Linked DNA regions of Homo sapiens. The protein of the gene in region 2 interacts with the protein of the main gene of each other region in a biochemical or structural test. Each region holds a gene or a part of one and is shown on either strand. Other genes may lie near its edges.

Region 1 (9,116 bases), on a different chromosome or scaffold from region 2:
CATGGTATTGATGCCCATAGGTTTATGTCTACTGATTGCCAGCCCTACTTAGGCACAGATAAGGACAGCTCCTCTACCTACTTTTACCATGTGAGTAGTGCATGACTCAAATTATAAATTTCTGTTGTTGTATGTTTATTACTCTTTGTAGTTATGACATTTATTATGGAACCAAAATTGTCGTAAAATGAAAACCCTTTTGATGAATTGACCATTCAGACATCCTCCCCAACCTCCCCATTTGACATCTTGTACTGCACATAGTTTTGACAGATGGATTGTCTTTCTGATGGTCCAGCTACGTTTGATTGCAAAGTGATTTCATTAAGTCAATGAAAGTGATTTTGGAGAATTTCTCAAATGTCCTGTGAAGCCCTTGACAGTAGGGATCTTGTTAACTTAAATGAAGAGGAAAAATACTGCTCAGGATGATGATATAAGTGCTTCAGAAGATAATGGTTTGTGTATCAAAGGGTTAAGAGGGGCCTAGGGAAAATTGATGAAGCCCTCAAATATTTTTGTAAAAATTTGTCATTTTTATGATAAGACTATGAAAGTCAAACATGAAATGAAGGATATCGTATTGTGCTAGTATGTAGTTTTATCAGAAAATTCATAGCCAAGTTATCAATCAAGTTCGACTCAGTGTTCATCCAGAAAATTAGCTCCTGGCTGCAATAATAAACCTAAGGTTTTTCAAATACCAGATAAAATTAAACTTGATTTTACAATTTTAAGTTTATCTTCTCAAGATAGAGTCTTTGTGAGACCATTTTGTCCCTATTATTTGCTATCTTGAATGAATGCATTTAAAATCACCCTTTTTCCACCAATTATCTCCTTCAGTAACAAAGACTCCTGCAGTAGCATTGAGACAGACACAACACATATATTAAAAAACCTCATAAATACACCATACCTGTAGTAAGAGCATGTCAAATACTTGCCATCTGTGTGTGATTGTATAAAAGAAAGCTTCTTGGCCAGGCATAGTGGCTCACGCCTGTAATCCCAGCACTTTGGGAGGCCAAGGCAGGCGGATCACCTGAGGTCAGGAGTTCTAGATCAGCCTGGCCAACATGGTGAAACCCCATCTCTACTAAAAATACAAAAATTAGCCAGGCATGGTGGCGCACACCTGTGGTCCCAGCTACTCGGAAGGCTGAGGCAGGAGAATCACTTGATCCCGGGAGGTGGAGGTTGCAGTGAGCCGAGATCGCACCACTGCACTCCAGCCTGGGCCATGGAGTGAGACTCCATCTCAAAAAAAAAAAGCTTCCTAACCAGAGTCTAATAGACATTGCATCCAGTCTTTAAAAATGTACATTCCTGCATCTTAATATGGTTTCTCCCAATGACTGTTTTTACAGAGATCAGAACACTAGGAAGCCTCAGACTTATTTATTGTCACAGTAGTCATGTAAGGAATTGTTCTCCTGTTTAAAATCAAGAACAAGTGTAGTGGCTTAGTATCATCTAGAATTGGGGCAGACAGTCCCAGAAACCAGAGTCTGCAGTGCATCATCCACACTGGCCAGTGCACAGTTACCATCCACATGAAGAGACAAGAAGACCTGACTCCATGAGTAGAAGCAAACCCGAAAGTGATCCCATTATTAGAATTTGCAGACAGAATTTACACATATATTTTTGGGCCACATCCAACCTGCCACCAGTTTTTGTAAATAAAGCTTTCATGGAACATAGCCATGCTTGTTTGTTTATTATCTATGGCAGGGACGTCCAGTCTTTTGGCTTCCCTGGGCCACATTGGAAGAAGAATTGTCTCAGGCTGCATATAAAATACACCAACGATAGCTGATGAGCTTAAAAAAAAAAAATCGCAAAAACAGCTCAGTGTTTTAAGAAAGTTTATGGATTTGTGTTGGGCCACATTCAAAGCTGTCCTGGGCCACATAACAGGCCGCAGGTTAGACAAGCTTGGTCTGTGGCTACCTTCACTCTACAATAGTAGAGTTGAGTAGTTGCAGCAGAGATTATGTGACCCATAAAGCCAAAATATTCACTACCTGGTCTTTACCAGAAAAAGTTTGCCGTCACCTGATCTAGAGCCAGGTTTGGAGCAGAGATGTGCTGACAGCTTTTGAGTCTCTTACATGCCTCCACCTTCTTTCTTTGCATCAAAAGGACATGAAAGTTTCCATGTCAGTAATAGCGAGTGGCTTGCCCTCCCACAGCTAAAAATTATATATAAACTCCAGACAAAGCTTTAAAAAAACAACTGTTTGAAGGCACTGCAGAGCAACCAAATGCAGTCAGGGACTGCAAAGGGGAGCTTTCTTGTGTAAGATCCACATTTTTACAGCTTTTCCCCAGTGGGTATTTCCCAGTTCGAGTGGCACAGGGTAGCTAGTACTTAAGCAGAAAGCTTGTGTTGAGTGCAGAGTTTAGGACTGCTAGAGCAGCCAGAAAAAGAGGAGGCAAATCGCAGAAAAGGGATTCAACAAGGAGGGACCCCCTAAAATCTGTTTATAAATTCCCTGAAGTTTTTTTGACCCCCAAATTGTGAATTCACAAGAGAGACATTATAAAATGCAACAGAAACCAGTAGCTGGCAAGGGTGACAAGACAGCAGAGATTTCAGCTGCTCCTCATTACAGCAGGGCTAGACTTCAAAGTTTGAATCCAATCCTGCTGTGTTACAGGGGATCACTAAACACCTTGGGCATTCCGATGAAACTTCAGAAGAGCCATGCCTTGGGAGTAGAAACCGTGTCCTAGGACTAAGGGCAAATCCAAAAACCCAAGTAGACCAACCAATCTCAGGATGAGTCACCAGTAACTTAATACTCTTCAGAGAAGAAAAAAACCAAGCGTCTACAGTGCATCATCCACACTGTCCAGTGGACAGTCAGCACTACTACACATATGAAGAAACAGGAAGGTGTGACCCAGTGAGTAGAAGCAAACCCTAAAGTGACCCTTTTCTTGGAATTTGCAGACACAGAATTTAAAGCACATATTTTACATATGTTCAGAGATTTAAAGAAAACTAGGCCAGGCACAGTGGCTCATGCCTTTAATCCCAGCACTTTGGAAGGCCGAGACAGGCATATTGCTTGAGTCGAGGAGTTCCAAACCAGCATGGACAACATGGCAAAAGCCCATCTCTTAAGGGAAAAAAAAAAGGAGTGTTAATGACTTAACTGCAAATGGGGAATCTCACATAGAATGGAAACTAATAAAGAATCACATGAAAATGCTAAAACTGAAAGCTGCAATATCTAAGATGAAAAACTCACTGGAGGGTGATAGAACACATTAATCAGAAGAATAGAAAAACAGTAGAAAAATATGGACAGAGTCTCAGTATCATAGGGACAAATTCAAACAGTCTAACGTATGTGTAATTGGAGAGCCAGGAGGAGCAAAGAGAGAGATGGAAACAGAAAAAAAGATTTCAAGAAATAATGGCTGAAAATTTCCCGAATTTAGTGAAACATAACTCACAAATCCAAGAAGTTCAACAAATCTGTAAGTTCAAAGAACACCATATCTAGGTAAGTCGTAGTCAAACTGCTGAAAACCAAAGGTAAAGAGAAAATCTTGAATGCACCCAGAAGTAAAAGACACGTAAACAGGAGAACAACAATATGAATGATGGCTAACTTTACACATAAACGCCGGAGACCAGAAGCCAGAGGAACAGGATCTTTAAAGTGTGGAAAGCAAAAACCTATCAGTTTGCCAAAATTAGTTTTCAAATATAAAGTCAAAGTAAGAACATTTTTAGAAAAACAAAAACAGAAATCAACAGCAGCTGTCCCAGAAGGTTTTTCACACTAAAGGAAAATGACACCACATGGTAATTCAGATCCATAGGAAGAAATAATAGCCACTAGAAATGGCAAATAGAAACGTATGTTTTTTCTTCTTCAATTATTCAAAAGTTAACTAATTCAAAAATTATAACACTGGATTGTATAGTTTATAGCATATATAGATTTAGATTATTTGACAGTGGTAGTACAAAGAATGGTAGGATAACAAGAAATTAGACTTTTGCAAGTCTCTGATATTTTACATGAAGTGGTGCATTTTAAACTAAGTAGACTGTAGAAAAACGTGCAGTAGTCCAGACACAGGGGCTCACACCTGTAATCCCAGCACTTTGAAAGGCCACGACAGGTAGATTTGAGGCCAGGAGTTCAAGATCAGCCTGTCCAACATGGCAAAACCCCATATCTACTAAAAATACAAAAGTTAGCCGGGCATGGTGGCACTTACTGTAATCCCAGCTACTTGGGAGACTGAGGCACAAGAATTGCTTGAACCCGGCAGGCAGAGCTTGCAGTGAGCCAAGAACACACCACTGCACTCCAGCCTGGGTGACAGAGCGAGACTCTGTCTCAAAAAAAAAAAAGAAAAATGTGCAGTATATATTATAGTTACAAAAGCAACAACTTAAAAAATAATACAAGCAAGTACAGTTCAAAAGTCAGTAGAGAAGTTAATATACTAAAATTGAACACTAAGAAAAATTCAAGCAATGCAAAAGAGGAAAAGAACGGAGGAGCAGGAATTTTAAAAGAAATGGAACAGATACAGGCCGGGCATGGTGGCTCACGCCTGTAATCCCAGCACTTTGGGAGGCCGAGGCAGGTGGATCACCTGAAGTCGGGATTTCAAGACCAGACTGACCAACATGGAGAAACCCCATCTCTACTAAAAATACAAAATTAGCCGGGCGTGGTAGCGCATGCCTGTAATCCCAACTGCTAGGGAGGCTGAGGCAGGAGAATGGCTTGAACCCGGGAGGCGGAGGCTGCGGTGAGCCGAGATCACGCCATTGCACTCCAGCCTAGACAACAAGAGCGAAACTCCGTCTCAATGGTAGACCTAAATCCAAATATATTAGTAAATACATTAAATATAAAGGAGCTGAACTGCTGAACCTTCCACTTAAAAGGCAAAGGTTGTCAAAAATCAGGACCCAACTATGTGCTGGTTATAAGAGGACTACTATAAATATAAAAACAAATAAAGAATGCAAAAGGATGTAGTATTCAAATAATAAACAAAAGAGACCCATGTGGTTATATAATATCAGTAAAACAGACATGAAAACAAGGTGGAAGAAGGACATTGTGAGAAGAATATTGAGGAACTTTGTGTTGATAGAACTGTTTGACATCTTAGTGGATGATATTCACACAGATATATACATTTGTCAGTTTATCAAATTAAAATTTAATTTGATAAATTTTAAATTTATCGTAAAACTCAAATTAATACGAAATTTTAAAAGCCAAAAGGTTAAACTCATTGGATAAGCAGTTCCAGAATCCATAGTTCTGTATGTGGTTTATGTATGTGCACCAAATGCTCCCCTGTGATAATCCCTGCCTGTGTTCAGGGGTAAACCACCATTAACAACAGGATGTAAATACAGTGTCATCAGATCATAAGTAGGGGTCAGGCTTCAGAGTCAGGGTGCAAGACGAAAATTAAGTATAGGCAAAATTCTTGTCATTAAACATTGACATCATATCCAGTTGGTGAGATGCTCACATAGGACGTGTGCCCAAGAACTGAGATTGACTGGGCAAAGAGCTTCACAGTCTCCATCTCACACTCATTGAGAGAAATAGCTCACTGAATCACCCTTGCTGTTCAAATGGTTATTCCTCTCCCTTCTCTTTCCTCCCTGTTGTGTGTCACCGGTTGTGGAGGCCAGGGTGACCAGGGTGATGAGTGGGAAGAAGCTGTGTATTCAGGGTTAAATTGATGTAAATGAAATGAGATCTGTACCCAGCATTTGAGAATTGCCACATGCAAGGAGATATCAAAAAAGCAAGTTGCAAACTCATCCAAGTAGTGAATGTAGATGTGTACTCATTTCTGAAGGACAATCAGTGTTCAGATTACAGGGTTTTCTTTATGACACCCAAATGCAGCTACTTCTCTGGAGAACTATTTATAGCATTATTTTTATCTCCCCTGATAGTTAGGGAAGCCAAAGTTTAAAGGACTATTGAACAAATGAATTTGGGAATTATAACATTGAGTTCAATTAAAAAGCCTTTTTAGCTGAAACAATTGTTTATAGCGCCATATTTAATTCCTATAAAACTGTATTCTGAACTATCTTCTGAGAGACATTTCAGTGTTACATTAAAAGTTTTTGCCTTTGGTAATTACTGGTTCATTTGCTTTAAAGCAGCATGTCATTTTCTTGGCTTAAGAGAAAGATTACTTTTTGTGCAGGGATAATGGGCTTATAAATCTAGTATAAAACATATTTAACCAGTTTTCCCAATTTTGTTTATTTTTCCCCCTCCTCTGCAGTTTCGTGCCTTAGCACCAATGTACTATCGAGGGTCGGCTGCAGCTATAATCGTTTATGATATCACAAAAGAAGTAAGACTATATAGTTTTCTTTAGATTGTTTTGAAAACTCTTTTGGTTGCTTAGATCTCCAGTTGCTCTCTTTTTTGTGTGTTACAGGAGACATTTTCAACATTAAAGAATTGGGTGAAAGAGCTTCGACAGCATGGCCCACCTAATATTGTAGTTGCCATTGCAGGAAATAAATGTGATCTTATCGATGTAAGGTAAGTTATTAGAACGAGAGATTACAATACCTATTATGTGTTCCTTTTCTTAATAAGCAATATCCAGTTTAAGAATCTTGCTTTTATTTTATCTCTGACATTGAAAAATTCCTTTTGGTTGTGTGGTTGGAGTCCTAAATTTTTAAACTAAAATTAAGATTTCAGGCATTTGGAGCTAATTATATTATGTATACAGACAGGTGTGCAATTTACGGAAATACTGGTTGCGTTGCATCCAACATTATCTGAGATCAGAGCAGCCCCCAGGCTCCCATGACTTAGAATACTTGAATGCAGAAAGCACATTTATTGGCAGTTTCCCTGGGCCACTTCCATCATTCCCAAAGCAAGGGCTTTTTGAAAATTTTGGCTGGGGAAGAAAACCCTGCCATCCCTAATCATTCCATTAGCTACATTACTAGTGGTACCGAGTTTTGTTTCACTTTGTTTGTTTACCCATGGATGTGGTGTAATCGAGAAGACCATGTCTCAGGGCCCATCCAGCAGCCATTTAGTCCATCCTTTGTCATCATAAATCTGGTTAACTACTGGGTAGGTGGGGGTACAACTAAGATCTTCATGGGTAGAATTTCTGATATGTAGTTGTTGCCTTCCAGAGAAGTCATGGAGAGAGATGCAAAGGACTACGCCGACTCTATTCATGCAATTTTTGTAGAGACCAGCGCAAAAAACGCGATAAACATAAATGAACTCTTTATAGAAATTAGTGAGTATCTCTGTGCCTTATCCATTTCCTCTGTAAAAGCCGCTTAACACAGAATGATCTTCCTGGTTAGAATTCCTGTCTTACTTAGAGCAGTCTAGTCTCTGATATTGTGATCAGTGAAATGAAGTTGGAGAAGGTAAGAGTAATGTCCAGTTTTCATATCATGTTATAGTTGCTGAAGAGCTGCCGCCCTTCTGGAAAGAGTGTTGCTACTGAATAAATAATGCACAGGGTACTGAGGTCATGAAAGCTGTCCCATTTCTTTCTCTATTTAAATATGTTTCTGTTAGTCGTCCAAGGTCATTGAAAATGAACAAAATGAATAAAGGGAAATGAAATGCAGGTATACTTGCACGGTAAGAAAACCCTCAAAAATAATACTAGGCAAGTGAAAGGTAAGACCTGTTTTCCCTTCTCTTTCCCTTCCCTTTCCAGAAGTGTTAATATGATGATACTCGATGGGAGAGGGGCTGCTGCATGCCTTTGGGATCCTCTGCAGATCGTATCTATGTTTATTCATTTCATTCAAATTCATCAAAATATTTATTGGGAGCTGTTCCAGGCTCAGGGGAAATAGCCGTGAAGAAGATAGACGCAGCCCCTGCTCTCCTGGAGCGCACATTCTACAGAGGGAAACAGACAGTGAACACCAAATAAATAGGATCATTTCAGATCATAATAACTGATACAAAGAAAATAATTTAGGATGAAATGAAGGAATGTCTGCAAGCAATTGGGGAAGGTCTCCCTAAGGAGGTGCTATCAGAGCTGAGGTCCAAAGAAGCAGGCCCTGTAGAGGTGTGGGGAGTCACATAAACATGTCAGACTTCCAGGTGGAGAAAAGCAGAAAGCCGTCAGAGCAGGGTGGATGTAGCGTTAAGATCCACCATGTGGTTGAGAGCCAAGGGTACTGAAGCAGGGAGGGTCCTTTGCCATTGTGTCGAGGAGGGGCATGAACTCCAGAGCCCACCAAGGCCAGGCAAGGTTGACCCATGAGCAGAGCAGGCCCAGGTGAAGCCTTGGGAACCCCAGCTCAGGCCAGGCCCAGCTCCATCAGCTGGGGCCACACTGGAATGTGGGCCCCTGGTTGCTGAGGTTGTTTTCACATTTTTTTTTTACATGTCCCATTGTTTAGATTTGGCCAATCATTTAAGTATTTTCAGAGTACTTTGCAGGCCTAAGGAGCCCATCTGCTGCCAGATATGGCCAGTGAACTACTGATTGCACCCTCTAGGCCAGCCCGTTCATTTCAGTGTTAAAACGTCATGATGTGCCCGGGCATGGTGGTTGTCACCTATAATCCCAGCTACTCCAGAGGCTGAGGCAGGAGGATCACTTGAGGTCAGGAGTTTAAGACCACCTTAGGCAACATAGTATAACCCTATGTCTAAAAAAATATAAAAATCAAAATACTAGGGCATTGTGGCATGCACCTGTAGTCCCAGCCACTCGGGAAGCTGAGGTGGGAGGATGGCTTGAGCCCAGGAATTTGAGGCTGCAGTAAGCCATTGATTGCACCGCTACACTTCAGCTTAGGTGACAGAGCAAAACCCTGTCTCTTAAAAAAACAAAAATCATGTTTATTGTTGTCCTGGATGTAAATAGCAGGTACCCAGATGGATTTTTGAAAGGCAACATAAAGCCAGTTGGGAATTTTTCACAGCTCAAGCTAAAATGTCTAAGTGTGTGGTGTCATGAGTATGTTAAAATTACTGCTATCTTTTTGTGTTCTTCACTTTAGTGGTATTAAAAACAGGAAAGTAGGCCAGACATGGTGGCTCACACCTATAATCCCAGCACTTTGGGAAGCCAAC
Region 2 (9,204 bases):
TCCTGCCTCAGCCTCCTGAGTAGCTGGGGTTATAGGCACCTGTCATCATGCTCAGCTAATTTTAGTATTTTTGTAAAGACAGGGTTTCACCATGTTGGCCAGGCTGATCTTGAACTCCTGACCTCAGGTGACCTGCCCGCCTCAGCCTCCCAAGTGCTGGGATTACAGGTGTGAGCCATTATGCCTGGCCCAATGTTCTAATTTATGGAAAGTAAGAAATAGGTTGTTTCCCATAAATATTGGGAAATTTTGAAGAGTCAAGAAACATACATACACATTATGTAAAAAGAAAAAAGATTGTCAGATAGGATCAAAAGATTGTTGGGTTGCTTTCAGGATTGTTGCATTTGGATCACTTCTTCATAAATAGGAAGATGTTAGCTTGAGGAACCTTGGAAGTTAATTGTTATAGGAGTAATTCTATACCTTTCATTCCTTCAATCCTTCCTTCATTCATTCAACAAATATTTATTTAGTATTTACCATTAATAGAGCAATGTTTTGGTTTTGAAGTCACAGCACTGAAGAGGGGACAAGATCCTTGTGCTCAGAAAATTGACATTCTTGTTGGGAAGACATATGCAGACAAACAAGAGAAGTCAGAAATGGTAGTTTCTCTACCATGTAGAGAATTAGAATGGGTGACCAGAGATTCGAAGCACTTTGGATGAGGTGGTCCTTGAAGGCCTCTCTAAGGAGGTGACCTTAAGGGAATAATCTGAATGACACAAAATTAACTATGAGATTTCAGGAGAAAGCATTCCCTAAATAGGAACTGGTTGGTGTACAGGCAGGAACAGGTTTTGTGCAACTGAGAAAAGTCCAGAGCAGCTGGGGCATAGTGGGTCAAGGGGAGGATATTCTAAGTGGAAAGCAGAGAAGCAGGCAGGCCCAGATCAGCAGGGCGTGTAAGCCAGGATAAGGTATTTGGATTTCATTGTGATGATAATGGAAGCTACAATCTAGGAGGGCAGTGACATTTTTGATTTGCATTTTAAAAAGTCGTCCCTGGCTTCTGTGTAATGAATGGATTACAGAGAAGCCAAAGTAAAAGGCGGGAGACCAACTAGAAGACTATTCTAGTAGTCTTGACAGGAGATGAAGGGGCTATAAACTAGGGTGAAAGTGGCAAGAAGTGTCAGATTTGGGATATATTTTGGAGGTGGATTTGTCAGGATATCCTGATGGATTCGCTGGAAGGAGGAGAAGTGGTGAGATAAAGAGATTTTTGGTTTGAATCAACTAAGTATCTTGTAGTGATACATATGGAGACAGGAAAACTGGTGACGATGTTTTGAGGATAAAAATGAAACAGTTTTGTTTGGGCCATGTTACGTTTGATATGCTCACTAGACATCCAAGAAGAAATATGAAGTAGATGATTTTTTTTTTTTTTTGAGATGGAATCTCGCTCTATTGCCCAGGCTGGTGTGCAGTGGCACGATCTCGGCTCACCACAATCTCCGTCTCCTGGGGTCAAGCCATTCTCCTGCCTCAGCTTCCCCAGTAGCTGGGATTACAGATGTGCACCACCATGCCGGGCTAATTTTTGTATTTTGAGTACAGACAGGGTTTCACCATGTTGGCTAAGCTGGTTTTGAACTCCTGACCTCGTGATCCACCCACCTCGGCCTCCCAAAGTGCTGGGATTACAGGTGTGAGCCACCGTAGCTGGCCTGATAAATGAAATTAAAAGTCAGGGGACTAGTTGAGATTACTTCTAGGCTGAGTATGACAGATAAAAGCAAGGGCCCCAGAACAGAGTAGGGGCACTCCAACATTAAGATACGCAGTAGAGAAGCCATCAGACATAGAGGGAATGGGCAATGAGGAGAAAAACCAGAAAGTATAGTGTCAAGGAAGCCAAGAGAATAAAGTAACTCAAGGAGAGAGTGGCCAACTGTTTTCTATATAGGAAACAGTCGAAGTCGAAACAACAAAGTAGTCACTGGAATAGGAAACATGCAGGTCATTAGTGATCATAAGAACAGCCTTATTGGAGTCAGTGGGACACAGGCTACAGAGGCTTGATTGGAATGGGTCGAGAAGAAAATATACAGTAAGAAAGTGCAGCAACTATAGATGTGTAGGCCATCTTGAAGATCTTGAGAAAGAAGACAGAAATAAAGTGTAACAGGAATGCTGCTGGGCAACTGTTAAAGGAGTAATTACATACCTTTCATTCCTTCAATCCTTCCTTCATTCGTTCAACAAATATTTATTTAGTGCTTACCATGAATTGAGCAATGTTTTAGTTTTGGGGTCACAGCACTGAATGGGGGACAAGATCCTTGTGCTCAGAAAATTGATATTCTTGTTGTGGAGACATATGCCTGAGATCTGTGGTTATTAATGCAGAATGAGCCCAACAACCCCAGTTATATATGTGTATCTCTAGTGATATTTAGACACTTTCCTATTCATATATATATACGTATTAGATGAAGTCTCACTCTGTTGCCCAGGCTGGAGTGCAATGGCGTGATCTCAGCTCACTGCAACCTCCATCCACCTCCTGCCTTCAAGTGATTCTCGTGCCTCAGCCTCCCCAGTAGCTGGGACTACAGACGTGCGCCACCACGTCCGGCTAATTTTTGTATTTTCAGTAGAGACAGGGTTTCACCATGTTCACCAGACTGGTCTTGAACTCCTGACCTCAGGTGATCCACGCCCCTCACCTCCCAAAGTGCTGGGATTACAGGTGTGAGCCACTGTGCCCAGCCTTCTATTCCTATGGATCCTGTGCAGCAGAGAGTAGGTGGTTAATTGAACTTAACCAGGGTTTGGCCTCTGCTAGACAAAAGCAATGGAGGAAGAGAAAGGTGAAGAAGTGGCCGGGTATGGTGTCTCATGTTTGTAATCCTAGCATTTTGGGAGGCAGAGGTGGGTGGATTACCCGAGCTCAGGAGTTTGAGACCAGCCTGGGCAACATGGTGAAACCCCATCTCCACTAAAATACAAAAAATTAGCTGGGCATGGTGGTGGGTGCCTGTAGTCCCAGCTACTTGGGAGGCTGAGGCAGGAGAATTGCTTGAACCCAGGAGGCACAGATTGCAGTGAGATTGCACACTGCACTCCAGCCTGGGCGACAGACTACATCTAAAAAAAAAAAAAAAAAAAAAAAAAAAAAGAAAGGTGAAGAAGTTAAGCATATTTGCAAAGGGAAGATTGTAAAGTTGGACCATGGGCTTTAGGTTGGGTTTTGATGGAAACGAGTAGGCTAGGGAAATGACTGATATTAAGAAAGTAAGAAGGGCCAATGGATTTGAGGTCTTGCTGGGGATCAAAGTAAATAGATGGTGGGGGAATATTAATGCACAAGAGCTGAACGGATGGGAATTAGTGGTCAGACAGGGTAAGCAGAACTGCTATGTATAGGAAGCTGCTAGATTAGTGAAGGGTATTCTTACATGGTTAGCTCTCACCCACTGCTTATTTTCTTTTGGAGTAATTAAGTTCTCCAGTGTATTATCCCAGTGATGGAGTTATCATGAACTGTGCAGGGGAGTACACAGATTTTCCAATAATCCATCTAGCTCAGCTGTAGATGAGAGCCTATTATATTATTCAAAGGATTCTACATGAGAATTCCAGTAAAGAAGGTCTTAGCATGTAACATTAATAAGCAGTTTTAAACTTTTTTTTTTTTTTTTAAAGACAGGGTCTCATTTTGTCACCCAGGATGGAGTACAGTGGTGAGATCATAGCTCACTGCATTCTCAACCTCCCTGGGCTCAGGTGATCCTCTCACCTCAGCCTCCTGAGTAGCTAGGAACACAGGCGCATGCCACCACACCCAGCTAATATTTTTTTAGACGAGTTGTTGCCATGTTGTCCAGGTTGGTCTGAAACTCCTGAGCTCAAGCAATCTGTCTGCTTCCGTCTCCCGAAGTGCTGGGATTACAGGCATAAAATCAGTGTGCCTGACCCTAAACTAATTTTTGAAAAACAAACAAAAAAGAGAAAAAAAGTCACTTTTATCACCCCATGTCGCTGAGAATGTTTCCCATATTGTCTGAAAATAAAGCACCTCATGTTTAGAAAGATGGAAAAGTATGTTCTTTGTAAGTGCATTATCACTAGTGATTACTCATATATTAGCTGTAGGCATGACCGTGCTGCTGCACCATCGAGAGACACACACACACATAATAAAAAACCAAATATATTTGGGATAGAAATATCATATTACATTATATAATGCATTATACTTTACAAAACATTTTCCTATTCATTAACTGATTTGCAAATAATATTTAATTTTGTGCTGCTTTTCAAAAGATCTGGAAGTGCTTTCCAAAAAGCACTCCATTCATTGCTTCATAGGCTTCATTCAGTGGTCTGTTGGTTTTTTCTTTTTTTTTTTTTTTCCCTCCCAGCAAGGTTAGTTCCATTATTCCCTCTCCTTCCCTATTCAAGCAATATTAAAGGCTTCTCTTTTTCTACCAGGGTGTTAAGTTGAGCCTCTTGGCTGTGAATATTGGCAGAATGGTAGGACGCAGAAGCTGTGATTTCTCGAGTTAAATAATGACATCGTGCCTGGAGGTCAGTTCAAAGACCACGTCGTTTTGGCACGATATTTATCTGTGACCTCATTTTCTTCTTAATCTATAAAACAGAGGCGTTAATGACAATTTACTTCATAAATCGATTATCAGAATAGGACTTAAAATTCCTTAGGAGGTCAAGCACGGGCTTTAGAAAGTGCAACATGTGAACATCAGCCTATTAAAAATTGTTTTGATCTAGAAAAGACAACCTCAAACTTCTCTTGCCAATTCAAATTCCAGCTTCTTCCTACCCTTCTTTTCTAAATCTTTGCTTTCTCTTTGGCTGAAATTAGAAGCAGGAAGGGAGCAGGGAAAGGAAACCTGGGACTGGAAAAGGGCAGGGAAGCCCAACAGACCGGTTAAGCACGTCTGAGATTCTCTAGTCGGCTTCAACCCAGGGGCTAAGAGGCAGAGTCAGCGTTTCCAGCAGAAACTAGCATATAGCTCAGGCTCAATACCACGTCGAGTCAGGAGCCATCGCCGGAAGGGTCACACCGACACATTTTACAAAACAGCCTAAGGCGTCCCCTCCTCCCGCCTGGGTCAGGGAGGGACACCCCCAGGGGTCCTCGCCCGCCTCCCACTAGCGGGCACGCGGTCGTCGCGCGGGCGCGGCCCTCTGACGGAGCCCAGGCGTGCACTCCGCAGCCTCGGCGTCCCCCAGCTAGCCGGAAGAAGCTGCGGCGACAGCGTCCTGCCGCCTGTCTGTCACGCAGCCGCCCACGTTGCCACCGCTTCCGATTGGTCGCTGGCCTGGACCGGCCCCCTTCAGCCCCGCCTCCCGCGAATGGACAGGCGAGGGGCGGGCCCGCCACCGCCCCGCCCCCCGGCGGCCGCGGGCGGGCCCGCCCATCTGTCAGTTACGGGGGCTGCCCGGCGGGCGGGCTGGAGGCGCTCGCAGGCTGCCTAGTCGTTCGCTCGCTCTCTCTCGCGTGCTCCCTCTCGCCGCCTGTGGGGAAGTCGGGGCCGCCCGAGCGGCCGTCGCCACCGCCTCGCCCCGACCTCCTTCCCGGTCCCCTCCCGGCCCAGTCCCTCCCGCCCGCGCACCCCGAGTAGTGAGTGGCCCCGCGCAGGGTCTGGAGAGTCACCGCGGCGGCGCCGGGTGGTGGTTAAACCATGTTAAGGAGGATTTTACAGAGGGTAAGAGAGTGAAACCGTCTTTCTGGCAGCACGTGAGCGGGACAGCCGGAGCTCGGGGCCGCGGCGCGGGCGCCCCTCCTCAGCGCGGGCTCCTTCCTTCCCTAGGCCCCACAGCCCGGCAGGCGCTTAGGCCTCGGTCGCCCGGCCCGGGGGCGGGGAGGGCGGGTGGGGCCGGCGCGGCGGGGCGGCAGGCAGAGCCCTGGTGGCCCCGCGCGTCCAGGCCTGGCGCCCGCTCCGGCGCGGGGCTCCGTGTGTGCGAGCGGGCTGCGAGCTGGAGGGTGTGGTGCCGGCGCGTTCCTCCCGGGAACCCTGAGTGGGAGTGAAAATGGAGAGTTGGTGCCCGTGGGACGGGCCAGCCGCCGCCTGCCGGGCTGGAGAACGCCCCATGGGAGATTCGGGCGGCTTGCTTCGCCTTTCCCCACCCGCCGCACTCCCCGTGCCCCCCAATTTGACACGATGCGCACCTGCCACACACGGCCCTGCTTTCTCCTTTGGACCACAGTGGAGGGTGGTGTGGTGAGCCCCGGCCTAGCCTGGGCCCAGGCGTGGGACTGACACTGGCACAGTCAGCCGAGAAGGAAGATGTTACTCACTGTTGGAAACTTTTTTTTTAATTAAAAATATGTTTTCTGTGCAAGCCCCACTACCTTATTTTAGCTATCCAAGAATAAATCCGCAGTAAGCTTGATCAAGTGGTATATACACTTAGTTTCTGCCTGTGCTGTCTCTGAAATCTGGAAAACCTTGAGGATAGAAAGATTAGAGCATTAGAAAACTGTAGGTGTATCATTTAAGAATCAGTTACTAGAATAACATAATTCACATCTCTTTTCCTGTAAGAGTTATTGTACCTGTCAACTTAAATTTGTTTTTTTTTTTTGGTATAGCTTTTTTCTTTTCTTTTTGAGGCTGATAGGGTGTAACAAAATGTAAATGATTGAAAAGTAGGTGCCGAGCCTATTAGTTCTTTACCGAGGGAGTAGGATAACTAGTTCAAAGGACAAAAGAAATTAGTGAATTTGTAGGATTCAGCCGAGGAATGTGCGGAAGAGAGTTGAGTCATCCAGTAGATAGGAAGGGAGTGCTCTTGCTTCTGCCTAGCTTTCTCCTGAAAGAATGAAGTCATGTGAAACTTGGTCAGTTATTAGAGGGAGAAATAGTTAACTTCTTTATCTGACAACCTGTGTTGACATTTAATTGTATTTTGCAGTGTTTTGTGAATTTTGAAATCCCGGTAAGCGATGATTTTGGCAGTAACAAGGGCATGTCCTTTACTTTCCCCATCACTTCCTTAGTTCAGCAGTAAAGACATCTGTGCATGATTTACTTTCAGGCTTTAGGAGATTTTTCTTTTATCAGACCTGGAGGAACTGATTACCTCATGTTTCAGATTGTGTTTCTGTCATAGTTCTGCAAGTGAAAATTAGTTTGCCTGTGGTTTGCTTTGAAGTTTACAAATAAAAGTGTTTACTGGTTTAAGGGTAGCTCAGCTGTAGTTATAGATTGGTTTTCAGAAATATGGGATGCTTTCTAGTAATCTTGGTTTAAAGTTAAACATCGAGATTATATGAAGATCATTTTTAATGTTGGTGCATACCTATCAACTGTTAAAGAAGCTTCTGTTGAAACTACAAAAGTGAAATTGATTGTGGTTATTGCAGAGATGTGATATTGAATCATCACTTCTGAATAAGTCAGTTGACAACTGAGTTTCTTAACGTCGGCGCTATTGGCATTTGTGACTGGATAATTCTGCGTTGTGGGAGGCTGCCCTGTGCCTTGTAAGATGTTAGCAGCATCCCTGGCATCTACCCCCACTAGATGCCAGTAGCATTCCCCTATATCCCTTCCCCCTTGTGACAACCAAAAATAGCTCCAGATTTTACCAAATGTCCCCTAGGGGCAAAATTGCCTCTGGTTGAGAATCACTGTGTTAAATGCATTAACTCTTTAGTAGGAAAGTTTGAAGTGTTTCTCACAGTTAAGTACTTAATTTTCTTTTATTCAGTGTATTTATATTGAGTTTCAGTAAATGCCAGGCTTCATGCTAAGGGGTAGGAAACAGTTGATTAAGCTGTGGGTCCTCCCTTTAGAACTCACAGGCTGTTTGGGAGGTGAACATTTAAAAGTAATGACAGTGCTATGTAATAGAATAATGAAGAGGACAGAGGACCCAGGAGGCACTCTGTGGGAGGTGAGGGCAATTAGGAAAAGCTTCAGGGACGGGGGCATATTCACAGCTCAGAAGAGGGAAGGGCATGTCAGGCAGAGGGAACAGCAAATGCAAAGAGATGGAGTCATAAAAGGCGCAGGTAGTACTGTGAGGAGTGTGAACAATGAAGCTTAGGAAGTGAGATGGTCTGTAGCAATTAGTAAGAGATGAAGCTACCGTGGTGGCTAGAGACCAAATTGTGAGAGGACGTAAGAGTCCCTTTGAAGGAGTTCAGCTTTTATCTTGTAGTTGGGTCAGTGTTAATGCTGAGTATTTAATAGGGACATTTTGATAAATGTCTTAAATCTGGTGATTTACTAGTTTAGAAGGTAGAATATATATTTTATTAACTCTACAAGTGGTATTTACCAACAAGTATAACTTGAATCTTTAAATTGTGTAACATGGCAACCTATTTTACCCCTCCCTGCTAATCTTATTTCTCAGCACAGATATTAAGCTATAAGATTAAAGCTATTGTTAATTTAGAGATTTATTTGAAATGGACTCTGTGCTTTGAAATTATGTGGCATTCCTTGGCTGGGTGCAGTGGCTCATTCCTGTAATCCCAGCACTTTGGGAGGCCGAGACGGGCGGATCACCTGAGGTCGGGAGTTCGAGACCAGCCTGACCAACATGGAGAAACCCTGACTCTACTAAAAATACAAAATTAGCCGGGAGTGGTGGTGCATGCCTATAATCCCAGCGACTCAGGAGGCTGAGGTAGGAGAATCACTTGAACCCGGGAGGTGGAGATTGCAGTGAGCTGAGATTGCTCCATTGCACTCCAGCCTGAGCAACAAGACCGGAACTCCGTCTAAAAAAAAAAAAAAAATTATGTGGCATTCCTTTAGCATTTTGTTTTTAGATGAACTTTTCATTTTAACTATTCTTATTTTCTTCTGAATAGTTTCCTTTAAATAGCATTTTTTAAAAGAAGAAACAGACAAACTGCTTACCATCAATTAGAACTCAAAGTGTTTGAACATCATCAATAAGTCTCAGGATACTTTACGGAAATTTGGTTTCTGGTTCTCCTGCTTTTGTCCCTCCTCCTGCTCCTCCTTTTTCATTAGCTTACTAAGGTGTTTCTCTGAGGCTTGAAAGAAGCTGGAAAACAAAAACAAAAAAACCTCAAAACAAAACCAAAGTGAAGTAGCTCCAATATGTATGTATTGAATATTTTACTTAATAGTCCTTCAAAGAAAAACATGAATTTAAAGTACTTGATGGTTAGAAATTTAATCAACGTTTAGTACCTTAGGCAGCTTGTAAACCTTGTTGCCATTTCTTTCTTAAGTA

The links.
Region 1: the proteins of EEA1 (region 2) and RAB22A form a complex in vitro, tested with the Homo sapiens proteins (one study listed by BioGRID).

Annotation. Positions count from the first base shown.
Region 1 is NC_000020.11:58,346,964-58,356,079, forward strand, and holds part of RAB22A (ras-related protein Rab-22A), read left to right. Parts: intron 1-6,309; coding exon 6,310-6,381; intron 6,382-6,468; coding exon 6,469-6,575; intron 6,576-7,192; coding exon 7,193-7,302; intron 7,303-9,116. UniProt on the Homo sapiens protein: Plays a role in endocytosis and intracellular protein transport. Mediates trafficking of TF from early endosomes to recycling endosomes. Required for NGF-mediated endocytosis of NTRK1, and subsequent neurite outgrowth.
Region 2 is NC_000012.12:92,925,529-92,934,732, reverse strand, and holds the start of EEA1 (early endosome antigen 1), read left to right. Parts: upstream 1-5,437; 5' UTR 5,438-5,666; coding exon 5,667-5,690; intron 5,691-9,204. UniProt on the Homo sapiens protein: Binds phospholipid vesicles containing phosphatidylinositol 3-phosphate and participates in endosomal trafficking.